4 linked regions of the Homo sapiens genome follow. The protein of the gene in region 1 purifies or fractionates together with the protein of each later gene. This does not show direct contact. Each region holds a gene or a part of one and is shown on either strand. Other genes may lie near its edges.

Region 1 (2,314 bases):
CCATTCTCAAAGGTCAAAATCAGCAACTCCACCTCCTGGAAGGCTCCCAGGACCTACTTGCTTCATGGGCCTCAGCTACCACTCATTTGGTATTTGGTTGCTATTTAATTTTGTCATCAAACTGTTGTCTTTTCCATTGGCAGATGAAGCCTTTGAAGGCAGAACCTTCCACAGAGCCTCACAGCCCTTTGCACAACTAAGCACATAGGAGGCTGTCAATAGCTACCAGTTAAATGAATGAATGAATGAATGAATGAATGGTTAGTAAAACCAGAAGATGGAGTCAGGGCAACTGAGGATGTCAGAACTGATGTTTCTATAATATCTTTCACGAATAACTCAGATCGATCTGTAAGCTATTACCTAAGCCACCCTAGAGGGCAAATTATCTGTAACATTCCTATTCTCTAGGAGAAGACAGTGAAGCCAAGGAGAGAGAGAGGTCCATGGTAAGGAGGATTTCTGACCAGGAAAATGAACCGAAGTAGAGGAGAGCATTTGAATGACAAGATACAACTACCATGAAATAAGCCAGCTCTCTTGAGAGACTTTTCAAATGGCTTCTAAAGGTAATTCCAAGAAAGACAGAAGTGTTTCGGGTGATAGTAGCATCATTGCAAAAGGTTTCCCAGGGGACCACTTGGATGTAGAAGTTCCGGTCCTGTTTGTCCAACACCAGCAAACAGAACATTTCATTCCTCTAAAGTTACACCTTCATTCAGAGGCTTCTACGCTGTGGATCTGGGTCAAATGTTTGTAAGCAGGTTATGTTAAGTGAATTAGAAAAGGATGAAGAAATCTTTATCAGAGTCCACCAGAAAATATGAGAGCTCAGAATTTTTAAAAAATCAGGCCAGCTGTGGTGGCTCATGCCTGTAATCCCAGCACTTTGGGAGGCCAAGGTGGGAAGATTTCTTGTGGCCAGGAGTTCAAAAGCAGCCTGGTCAACATAGTGAGAATCCATCTCTATACCAAAAAAAAAAAAAAGAAAATTTAAATTAGCTAGGCGTGGTGGCATGCTCCTGTAGTCCCAGCTACTTGAGAGGCTGAGGTGGGAGGATCATCTGAGCCCAGGAAGGTTGAGGCTGCAGTGAACCGTGATTACACCACTGCACTCCAGCCTGGGTGACAGAGCAAGACCCTGTCTCAAAAAAAAATCAGTGACAAGCATCATCTCTGAAGGGAATATCTCAGAGACTTGGGGGAGGCGAAATTATTAGGAAAAGCATAAATGCACTCAGAACAGTGAAGGTGACGGCAGGAGAGAGGCTGTTCATTAAGCAACCAAGGCCAGGTCAGTGAGTGATCGCCTCCTGGAAGCCTTCCAGAACCAACAGCCCATGGAGCCTTCTTGTCTATCTCAGCCACCCCTTATTTGATAGATAACCTTACTTTGTTATTTACATTTTATGACAGCCTAGAATTGAGAAGCCAAGCAACAGAGCCCACAAAATAATAACAAGGCAAGCTAAGATCGTAGCCAGTCCAATATGCCATTCTATCAAAAAGCATGGAAATGTACATGTAATTGAAGACTAGAGCCAAATAAACAAGATGTTAATTATGGAGTAAAATCAGTGAGGTTTCAGAAAAGAAAAAGGTTGTCATGGTTTAGAATTGTCTCAGAAGGCCTCAGTGAGGAGGTGACATTTGAGATAGACCCAAAAATTCTGAACTGAGCAGGGGAGGGGAGAGGAGGATAAGTAGATCCCACTGGAGGCCAGCTGTGAGCCTGCTGTCACTCATGCTACATTGCCATTGTCTTCCCCGCCCTCTCTCACCGGCTGGTCCTCCCTGTATGGGAACTGGGTGCAATTGTAGTGGTCTCTTAGGCCCATGAGGATGCACATGGCATGGCTGTTGCTGCCAGCAAATTTGTTAGCTAAGCTAACGTCAAACTGGTAGAGTCTCCTGGCGCGGTTCCTGTCCAGCTTAGAGGAGTGAGCCACCTGGCTGCGCAGGGTGGCTACCAGCTTGCTGAGGGAGGAGTCCGAGAACTCGTAAAAAAACCTCTTAAAGCTGGGGTGGCGCCTGATCTGGAAGTGGAAATGAAAACAGGTCATTAGTGTTGCTGGCAGTACCCCTCCCGCCAACTGCCCCTCCCACAACTCCATGCAGCCAGGCGGGGCACTCCTTGTCCCTGGGATGAGCTCCCCTTGTTACATCCCTCCACTGCCCCTAGCCTCTCAGAATCTGTTCTGCGAGGTCCAGCTCAAAGCAGCAGGACAAAGTAGAGGGCAAGGGTGGAAGTACAGGTCTTTAGACTCAGATAATTCAGAAGCAAACACCCCACAGAGTCTTCTCGTCTACCCTA
Region 2 (3,500 bases), on another chromosome or scaffold:
ACTGCACTCCAGCCAGGGTGACAGAGTGAGAACCTGTCTCAAAACAAAAAAAAGATGTAGGCCATATACAATTTTAAAAGGCAATAATATACCATTTTCTTCACATTATAATAATAGTAACGAAATCTCAAGTTTATAATTGTTTATAGGTAAAGAAAATTTGAAATAACTTACTGGCGAAATTACTTTCAACATTTTCCCATGCACTGGTGATATGCTTTAGAATACTGTTATGAATATATAGCATTATGTACATAATCGCTGTCCCCTCTCATTGGTTAATTTTAATGAGTTTGATTTCAGTTTCTTTCTGCTGTTTTATTTCCATTTCTCACATTACCTAGCACAGTAATCCAAATTAGGGATAGAGGTCAGGTGCAATGGCTCATGCCTGTAATTTCAGCATTTTGGCAGGCCAAGGTGGGAGGATCACTTGAGCCTAGGAGTTTGAGACTAGCCTAGGTAACATGCATGGCAAGACCCCATTTCTACGAAAACAACAAACGAATAAATTAGGGATACATTCCTATTTGGGAATAGGGGTGAATTATCTATTTTCCTTGTCAGGAATTTACTAATGGGAAAAAAAATGGTACTATTCTTTCTATTTAGTGTTTATTCTCTACATAAAGCCCATAGAGGGCAGTATAGTTTATTTTTATTCAGTCATCTTTTCTACTGAAGAACTTAAAATACAAATAAAACTTCATATTTTACTTTTAATACAGTTATTACATTAGGAGTAATGGGTACTTTGGTATCTTTTACTGGTGCATACTCAAACCTTTTCAAATTATATCGTGTTTGTCTGGGATTTATTTACTTTAGAATAATCCAAGATGGGAGAGGAGAATTAATGTAGGATATTTGTGAAATGAGATTGGCCTTGTGTTTATAATCATTAAAGCTCGGTAATGGGTATGTGGAGCCTCATAATACTATTTTCTCTACTCTTCATGATTTTTAAATTTACCATAATTTTAAGAAAAACCATTCTACTAATATGATTTTCCATGCCTTTTCTGTTTTAGGAGCGAATGTGAATAGAACCACAGCTAATAATGACCATACTGTACTGTCCCTGGCTTGTGCAGGGGGTCATCTGGCAGTGGTGGAACTACTTTTGGCTCATGGGGCAGATCCTACTCACCGTTTGAAAGTATGTAACTCAAATGTTTGTGCAGAATTGTGAATTAGTATTTCTCTCTTGGTCATTGTTACAACATATCATGTACAAGTTCCATTCATAATGGCATTCTAAGTGTAAATTTTCTCCTTTTTCACTTGAAGCGTTCTTTACCAAACCTATGATTTTAATGCGTCTGGGACCTGTTGGCTTTATCTTCCTAAGTGATTCTGTAAACTAACTTATTTTTCTTCACTTTTTTTCCCCTTCCATATTCACTCTTTTAGGATGGCTCAACTATGTTGATAGAAGCAGCAAAAGGTGGCCATACAAGTGTTGTTTGCTATCTCTTGGATTATCCTAATAACTTGCTTTCAGCCCCTCCACCAGATGTCACTCAGTTAACTCCCCCATCCCACGATTTAAATAGGGTAAGATTTTAAAAATTAAAGCATTTTATGGTATGTCTTCTTTATCCTAATTCTTTCACTTACAGTTTCTGTTTAAATTAGGGTTTTTTTTTGTTCTAATATGTAGTTCTGTTTGTAAATATGTACTTGATACAGTTAATGAACATCTGGTACAATATTCAGATCCTAGATGATATGATTATGCTTTAGCTTTTAAAGGTCACAACTTGAATTCAAAGCCTACTAAAAAATGTCGTGGTAAACAATTTGGTGCCAACATATTTTAAGTAAATATGTCATTGTCTAAGATGACATATTAAAAATATTGTCAAAAAATCTCTAATTTATTCTTTATTTAGAGCATATTACTTAATGGATTGTGTAGGACACTAATAGTCACTTAGTGTCCTTTGTCTTAGGCTCCTCGTGTACCAGTTCAAGCACTGCCCATGGTTGTTCCACCTCAGGAGCCTGACAAACCACCTGCCAATGTTGCCACCACTCTTCCCATCAGGAATAAAGGTCAGTTATACTTCTAAAGACTGTTTCTTACTTGGTGTCCAGGTAAAAATAAGATTACCAAAAAATAGACATTTCTACAAACAAAGAAGTTTACTAAGTTGGCATTACTAAATTTTTAACCCATGATAAAAGCATGTTATTGGGAGAAAAAAATAGTTAATAGCACTAATTTGTGCTACAATTAGAAGTTTTAGCATGAGAAATTCAGATGCTCATCTTTGATGCAGTTCTGATTATCCATGATTTCCTTTAATAGTAATTTTTATTCATGTAAAATGTTAAGCTGGGTATAGTTGAGCAATATTTTTATAAATTACTTACCTAAATCTCTGCAGTTATAAAGGCATAAATTAACAAGATGTATCAAATATTAGAAATTTATTTTAGAATGACTGGCTTAATATAGATTTTATATCTGATCTGGGATACCTTTTCTCAACCAATAATTCAGTTACTTGAGATATGCTTGTTTATTTCTCTAGAATTCTGAGGTCCATATTTGACTTGTGTATGTTACACCATGTGTGTTCTTAAGTAATGTCCCCAAACATTTTATACCTACCGGTTTGAATCAGTTTTTCTTTTTAAAAGTTTTACCTGAAGAAACAGTGCAGTTTTTATTTTTTGGTTTTTGGCTACGTATACTCTTTTATGAACAAGAATGCTAAGTATTTTCACCAGCTCTTTTCAGTCACTACTATCAACCTAGAGCCTTGGCACCTTTTTCAGTTGGTATAGCAAACAATTGATTGCTATACCTATAGCCAGATCTGTCTGTTCACCTGGCTGTCAGAAGATACAGTGGATGGCATAGTCCAGCATCTTTTCTTCCAGGGAAACTGAATCCCAATTCTCTACTGGCCAGATAGCTGTGTGAATATGTGAATTTATATCTTGCCTCTATTAGTCTTGAAGATGGTAGGCCCCAACAAAGACATATATTTTACTCAGATTTTAATTTCTTGTTACTTCTTAGTGGTTTGGGTACTTTTTGTGTGTATGTGTGTGTGTTTAAAAGGCACAGACTATGAAATGTGAAAAAACCTGACTTAGAGGTCTGTTTCCTCTTCACCCTAATAATTTAGCATTATTGTTCTGTTCTTATGATGAGTTTTAACATCTTTATGACCATATAAAATATCTACACATAGCCTTAGATGTTACTTTAATTGCACACTTAGATATCACAAACCTGCATTCCTCTATTGTCTAATTTAAGCCATGTGCTATTTTTAAGATTCTGAAATTAATTTACAAAGATTTTGCACATAAAATACATACATTTTATATTTGTGAAAAAGAAGGTGGATTTGTTTTTAATTTTTTAACAGTGCATTTTCACCTGTTATGGATATGATTACTTAGTGCATAACTGTTGGCACTAAACCTCCCAACAGTAACTCTGTAATGAGGATGCCATTCATGTGCACTTCTGAGGGGGT
Region 3 (3,500 bases), on another chromosome or scaffold:
CCAAAAGGGATTCTAATTCTCATTACAAATCCTGCTTAAATCAGTGTTTCCCAAAGGTGGCTGTCATCAGAACCACTTGATAAGCTTTTTCAAAAAGTGGATCTCCAGGTCCCACCCCTGGAGGTTCTCACTCAGTAAATCTGAGGGAGGTCCTCGGAATGTGTGTTTTACTTCTTGAGCTTGGCAGGTGATTCGGATGATCAGTGCAGCATGGGAACAGCTGGGTTAGATGACACCATGTTACCAACAGACACATCTAGGGCTAAAAGGCTGGCTCAACCCAAGGCTGGAATGCTTAGGGCAGCTGCTCTACTCTGTAAAAAGTGGGAAAGCTGGGCATAGTGGCACGTGCCTGTAGTCCCGGCTACTTGAGAAGCTGAGGCAGGAGGATGGCTTGAGCCCTGGCGTTTGAGAGCAGTGAGACTCAGTCTCTAAAAACAGAAAAAAGAGGAGAAAACGGCAGGCCAAGCCCAGGTGTGCTCCTAGAATATGATCGGACTTTCGTGGGTCCCTCTGCCTGACACTGTGGTTGGCATGGATGATGGAAGGGGGAGAAGTATTTAGGGTGGGAGACGGGCTGGCCAGCAGCCGCCACAGCCCCTCATGTCTTGGACAGGGCTACCACTCCCTTCGGCAGCTTGTGAAGCTGTCCAAGCTGGAGGTGCCACAGGAGATCAAGGACGTGATTGAGCCAATCAAAGACAACGATGCTGCCATCCGCAACTATGGCATCGAGCTGGCCGTGAGCCTGTGCCAGGAGCTTCTGGCCAGTGGCTTGGTGCCAGGCCTCCACTTCTACACCCTCAACCGCGAGATGGCTACCACAGAGGTGCTGAAGCGCCTGGGGATGTGGACTGAGGACCCCAGGTGAGGGCAGTGGCCCAGAGATCCCCAGAGGAGGGTCCAAGAGCAGCCCCGGCTGCAGTGCTGGCTCCCCACGGTGGTACAGATGGATGTCTGTGCCATGGCTAGCTGGGCACATCGAAGGCTCCAGTCTCAGAGGGCATCAGATGGAAGAACTCAGCCTCAGGGGTGCTCCCCTGCTTCCGGCTCCCTCTAGCCAATCCCTTGTCTCAATTCTCTGTCCCCATCCTCACCCAGGCGTCCCCTACCCTGGGCTCTCAGCGCCCACCCCAAGCGCCGAGAGGAAGATGTACGTCCCATCTTCTGGGCCTCCAGACCAAAGAGTTACATCTACCGTACCCAGGAGTGGGACGAGTTCCCTAACGGCCGCTGGTGAGGGCCTGCAGACCTTCCTTGCAAATACATCTTTGTTCTTGGGAGCGGGAGGGCAGAAGAAGTTTGCATGCTTGTGGTTGACCTGGGAGGAGTCAGGGGCAGAATTTACAGGAATGGCCTCCTGGGCATGTGGTGGCACTGCCCTCTGTCAGGAGTGTGCCCTGACCTCTGGGCACCCCTCTGCCAGGGGCAATTCCTCTTCCCCTGCCTTTGGGGAGCTGAAGGACTACTACCTCTTCTACCTGAAGAGCAAGTCCCCCAAGGAGGAGCTGCTGAAGATGTGGGGGGAGGAGCTGACCAGTGAAGAAAGTGTCTTTGAAGTCTTCGTTCTTTACCTCTCGGGAGAACCAAACCGGAATGGTCACAAAGTGAGTGATGCTGGAGTGGGGACCCTGGTTCATCCCCTGCCCCTGGCCTGACCCCAGCTGCAGGCCAGGCTGCGGGGCTGTGACTTCCCCATCCTGTGCCCTCCCCTCCATGCTGTGGACATGGCAAAGGGAGAAGGGTAAGTTGGGAGACCTCCACCTGGAAGGGCTTAGGGAGGCAAAGACAGGCTGGGTCTTTGTTGGGGGCCGTGAGAGGGACTCAGGGTGCCAAACCTGATGGTCGCCCCAGCCAGCTCACCGTCTCTCCCAGGTGACTTGCCTGCCCTGGAACGATGAGCCCCTGGCGGCTGAGACCAGCCTGCTGAAGGAGGAGCTGCTGCGGGTGAACCGCCAGGGCATCCTCACCATCAACTCACAGCCCAACATCAACGGGAAGCCGTCCTCCGACCCCATCGTGGGCTGGGGCCCCAGCGGGGGCTATGTCTTCCAGAAGGTGTGGTAGGGAGGCACGGGGTGCCCCCCTCTCTTGACCGGCACCCGTGGGTTCCCCAGAGCTTAGGGCAGAGCAGCCTGCCTCTCCTGGGCTCTTAAATTTTGAATGAGCATGGATTGGAGCGGATGGGAGCTCATGCTTTAAGTCAGATAGACCTGGCTGGGCACGGAACCCGGCCAGCACTTTGGGAGGCCAAGGCGGGTGGATCACTTGAGCCCAGGAGTTCGAGACCAGCCTGGGCAACATGGTGAAACCCATTCTCTACAAAAAATACAAAAATGACCGAGGCATGGTGGTGTACACCTGTAGTCCCAGGTACTTAGGGGGCTGGGGTGAGAGGATCGCTTGAGTCCGAGAGGTTGAGCCTCCAGTAAGCCATATTTGTGCCTCTGCACTCCAGCCTGGCCCACAAAGTGAGACCCTGTCTCAAAAAAAAAAAAAAAAAAAAAAAAAAAAGATTGGCTGGGCTTGGTGGCTCATGCCTGTAATCCCAGCACTTTAGGAGGCCAAGGTGGGCAGATCACAAGGTCAGGAGTTCGAGACCAGCCTGACAAACATGATGAAACCCCATCTCTACTAAAAATACAACAATTAGCCGGGTGTGGTGGCGGGCACCTGTAGTTGCAGCTACTTGGGAGGCTGAGGCAGGAGAATCGCTTGAACCCGGGAGACGGAGGTTGCAGTGAGCTGAGATCATGCCACTGCACTCCAGCCTGGGCAACAGAGCAAGACTCCATCTCAAAAAAAAAAAAAAAAAGATAGAAATCAGACCTATGGAGGCAGGTCACTCGACCTCTCTGAGCCTGGTTTTCTCGTCTGTAAAATGGGATGTAGCTTGTGTTCTGGGCATGAAACCTAACAAAGCATGTAACGTGCTTGGCACATGGTAAGAGCAGGAAGCACTCCCTGAAAGGCAGCTGCTGTTACTATCCTGAGTTGACACCTTTCTCCCAGGGCTGCTGGAGTTAACATTATGTTCTGATCTAAGGCCCACAGGCCCTGGAGCAGAAAGACCTGAGTTTAAGGACCAGCTCTACTGTTTACTGTCAGAGTAGCCAACGTGCTCAACTTCCCTGAACCCACTTTCCTCACGTGGGGCTCACTGTGCCCAGCCTCCCGTATTATCAGCATTCTAGCAAATGAGTTTGAGTAAACCCAGCTTAATCCCTGATAGGCACTGGTTCTAGAGGAGATGTCAATGTCATTGTCAGCTTGCACTGGGGAGGATGGAATGTGTGGGGCCTCTCTCCCATGACTCGGCCTGTCAAACCAGTTGCTGCTGTTCAGAAATGGCTTCTTCGTGGAGTCTTCCCTGACTGATTGGGAGAGGGGTGGCTGATAGCCCTCAGACCTGTCCAGACTGAGAAACTCACGTCCCCACTCCCCTCACCCTTTGCTTATGGACGTGCCAACGCCACAGTTCATTATTCCGCCCACATGGC
Region 4 (3,500 bases), on another chromosome or scaffold:
ATCCCTAATTAGAAAATCCAAAATGCTCCAAAATCCCAAACTTTCTGAACACTGACATGCTCACATGACCATTGCAGCATTTCAGATTTTGGATTCTTGGATTAGGGATGCTCCTGCATTCTACAAAGATTCAAAAATCTGAGAATATCTGAAATCTGAATGCTTCTGGTCCCAAGCTGTCTAAATAAGGGATACTCAACCTGTATTGATTCGTGTGGGCACTAAGCTACTTATTTTTCTCAATTAGTTTTCTTCTTCCTATAAGATGAATTGAGGCTGCGCGCGGTGGGTCACGCCTGTAATCCCATCTTTTTGGGAGGCCGAGGCAGGCGGATCACCTGAGGTCAGAAGTTTGAGACCAGCCTGGCCAACATGGTGATACTTCATCTCTATTGAAAATACAAAAATTAGCTGGGCATGGTGTCACGCATCTGTAGTCCCAGCTAGCCAGGAGGCTGAGGTGGGAGAATCACTTGAACCCGGGAAGTGGAGGTTACAGTGAGCTGAGATCACACCACTGCACTCCAGCCTCAGTGACAGAGCAAGACTCCTGTCTCAAAAAAAAAAAAAAAAACAAGATGAATTGAGATTACCTTTTTTCTTAAAATTAAACAGTAGAACCACCATTGTATGATTTTTCAAAAATTTGATTTTTTCTTTTGATATGGTAGGGTGGAATAGGGATTTATTCTTGATCTGAAGTCTAACGCTCTACCTCTGAGCTATCCCGCCTCCTGGGATTTATTCTTGAATGTTGTAGAAGCTTAGTCTGATTTTGTTTAACTTTAAATATGCTTTGGAATAAGGATTGGCAAATAAAAATTCTGGTAATTTTAGGAGGAATTGACCTTTCTTACTAGTTGTTTTTTCTTTGGCTGCTGACGATGGGGAAATATTGAAGATTTTTTTTTCTTCATGTAACTATTAAATATTTATTTTGGAAAAGGAAAAGAATTTTATTCTATCTCTGAATCATATCTTAAAACATTCAGAGAGAGAAATGGAGGTGGATTACAAGAAAGAAAGGATTTTGTTTTATTTGCTTTTTTAAAGTTTTTTTTTTTTTTTCAAATTCTTTAAGATTATTAATTAGAGTTTGCACATTCCTGAGTTAGGTGAAAATTATCTTATTCCCTGTGTTTTTTGTTTTTTTAAACTTAAAGAGTTAGAAATGTGCTGCTCCTTCTGCGTGAAACAAATGATTCCACTCTGGAGAGAAATGAAACATGTTTGAAAAATGGGACTATGGGCTTTGAAAGATGGAAAGATGGGCTTTGGATATTTTAACATAAAAAACACCTCAGTTAGCAATGTTTTGTTTATTGTAGGGTATTTAAACATTTTTCCTTTGGAATATGCCTAGGTTGACACTGATGAGGGGCTTTAGGCTTTCTGATAGTTTTCCTGCTGTATTTCCGAAATATTTTGAAACTACTTTCATTTTTATTTTTAAAAATTATACCTAATGTGTGCATCTGTGTTATGCATGTTGGGACTAGTTAGCATGCACGTTATGCTTTATCAGCCCATTGTTTTTATCTGGAAACATGATGTTTGAGCTGCTAACCTGATTGTGTTTGTCTTTTAAAAAATCAGCTCTGTGTTCTTTTCGGTGAAATATATTTTGCATGTGTTTGGTGTGGTTTTGTGTATGTTTATTTTTGTTTTACATAGGGAGAACCTAAAGAAGTAGTTAAACCTGTGCCCATTACATCTCCTGCTGTGTCCAAAGTCACTTCCACAAACAACATGGCCTACAATAAGGCACCACGGCCTTTTGGTTCTGTGTCTTCACCAAAAGTCACATCCATCCCATCACCATCGTCTGCCTTCACCCCAGCCCATGCGACCACCTCATCACATGCTTCCCCTTCACCCGTGGCTGCCGTCACTCCTCCCCTGTTCGCTGCATCTGGACTGCATGCTAATGCCAATCTTAGTGCTGACCAGTCTCCATCTGCACTGAGCGCTGGTAAAACTGCAGTTAATGTCCCACGGCAGCCCACAGTCACCAGCGTGTGTTCCGAGACTTCTCAGGAGCTAGCAGAGGGACAGAGAAGAGGATCCCAGGGTGACAGTAAACAGCAAAATGGGTAGGTGGCTAAGGTGCTTTCTGCTCTTACTAAAACTCTTCTTTCAGGTAATTTCCAGGAAATACTCTACATTCCTCTCCCCCAAAACCAACTTTCTTTGAAGGAAGGGAGATGAAGTATTATTTGCCTCATTAACATATGGCCTTTATATACATAGGGTACTTTCTGCAAAGCAATTATCACTTATTCAAAAGCTACTTGTGCATTTTGACATGTTCTGAACCATGTAACATCTCTGTAACTCATTTTTTGTAAGTCCCGACACAGCATTGAGCAGCTGGCACTTGTAATGCAAGGCAAATCTTGAATCTTTCTTCCTCAATTTTTTCATTCTTTTAAATAGGCCACCAAAAGTTCAAACAGTGGTTACAGTTGCTGTCACCTTACACAACTCATCGTAAGGAGAGGGGAAATCATGAATTTGTAAGGGGTTTTTTTTCTAGGAGGTAATCTTAGGAAAACCAGTCCGCTTTTGACTCATGTCTATATGTGAAGCATTAGCTTAGAGCAGAGAGCTAACAACATTGTTTTCAGATAAGTTTAAGTTAGAATTTATTCTTTAAAAGCAGACAGTAATGAAACAACAAGGCACGCTTAGAAAGCATTAGAAGCAAATTATAAAATACTTTCATTGTAAACGTTTTCTGAAATGAGTAAATTTAAGCCATTGGACACTAAACATACATGTTAGCAGAACACTTTGAAAATCTGTTTCTTATCGTTTTTCCCTTTTGGGGGTATCTTTTTATTAAAAAAATTGGTTGAAGTTATTAACTTATTTGAACTACACATAGTTATAAGATCACACATCTGTTTTTCAGCAACCTTCAATTATTTGTTTATTTTTTTTTAACACTTTCGGTTCAAATATAATGTTATCAGATAGTCAGAAATTTATGTTGAGGAGCAAGGATTTAAGTTGGCCGTGAGAGGTTATGTACAGTATCTTTTTTAAAAATAATTCTTTTCTATAATGTAATCCTACTTGCAAAGAAAAAAGTAAAGAAAAGAGAGAGAATAATGATGGTCATTTTATTGCTTTTGGAATTCAGGGATGATACTTTAAGGCAGTCATTTATGTAAAATCATTTTTATCAGATTTATTGTGACAAAAATGTACCTTAAAAGGAAGACAAAGGGAAATAGTCTACAGGCCTGATGGTTTTTACCAATGCCAGTTCCCAGGAAAATATAATTAAAATACTTGTGTGGATAGGTCCATTCTCTGAGATAATCCCTTCTGAATGTTAATTCCTGTAATGAAGAGGCTGTGCTTTCTGTAGCACTGCTGCCATGGCAACTTTGGGGCTTTGAAAGAGAAGGTGGCAAAACTCCAGGCTGCTGCTGAGAGAGGGAGAGCAGGAGCTCTAGAAGAACAGCTCCTGGGCTGTACATACGGTCTTGAGG

The links. Proteins that work in one complex are often made in the same cells at the same time.
Region 2: the proteins of BNIP5 (region 1) and ANKRD17 purify together in Homo sapiens (affinity purification with mass spectrometry; one large-scale study listed by BioGRID and IntAct). This does not show direct contact.
Region 3: the proteins of BNIP5 (region 1) and MTHFR purify together in Homo sapiens (affinity purification with mass spectrometry; one large-scale study listed by BioGRID and IntAct). This does not show direct contact.
Region 4: the proteins of BNIP5 (region 1) and PDLIM5 purify together in Homo sapiens (affinity purification with mass spectrometry; one large-scale study listed by BioGRID and IntAct). This does not show direct contact.

What each region holds. Positions count from the first base shown.
Region 1 is NC_000006.12:36,317,575-36,319,888, forward strand, and holds part of BNIP5 (protein BNIP5), read right to left. Parts: intron 2,037-2,314; coding exon 1,782-2,036; intron 1-1,781.
Region 2 is NC_000004.12:73,140,299-73,143,798, reverse strand, and holds part of ANKRD17 (ankyrin repeat domain-containing protein 17), read left to right. Parts: intron 1-1,031; coding exon 1,032-1,159; intron 1,160-1,413; coding exon 1,414-1,557; intron 1,558-1,955; coding exon 1,956-2,058; intron 2,059-3,500.
Region 3 is NC_000001.11:11,792,465-11,795,964, reverse strand, and holds part of MTHFR (methylenetetrahydrofolate reductase (NADPH)), read left to right. Parts: intron 1-616; coding exon 617-867; intron 868-1,101; coding exon 1,102-1,236; intron 1,237-1,426; coding exon 1,427-1,607; intron 1,608-1,875; coding exon 1,876-2,058; intron 2,059-3,500. UniProt on the Homo sapiens protein: Catalyzes the conversion of 5,10-methylenetetrahydrofolate to 5-methyltetrahydrofolate, a cosubstrate for homocysteine remethylation to methionine. Represents a key regulatory connection between the folate and methionine cycles.
Region 4 is NC_000004.12:94,573,942-94,577,441, forward strand, and holds part of PDLIM5 (PDZ and LIM domain protein 5), read left to right. Parts: intron 1-1,674; coding exon 1,675-2,093; intron 2,094-3,500. UniProt on the Homo sapiens protein: May play an important role in the heart development by scaffolding PKC to the Z-disk region. May play a role in the regulation of cardiomyocyte expansion. Isoforms lacking the LIM domains may negatively modulate the scaffolding activity of isoform 1.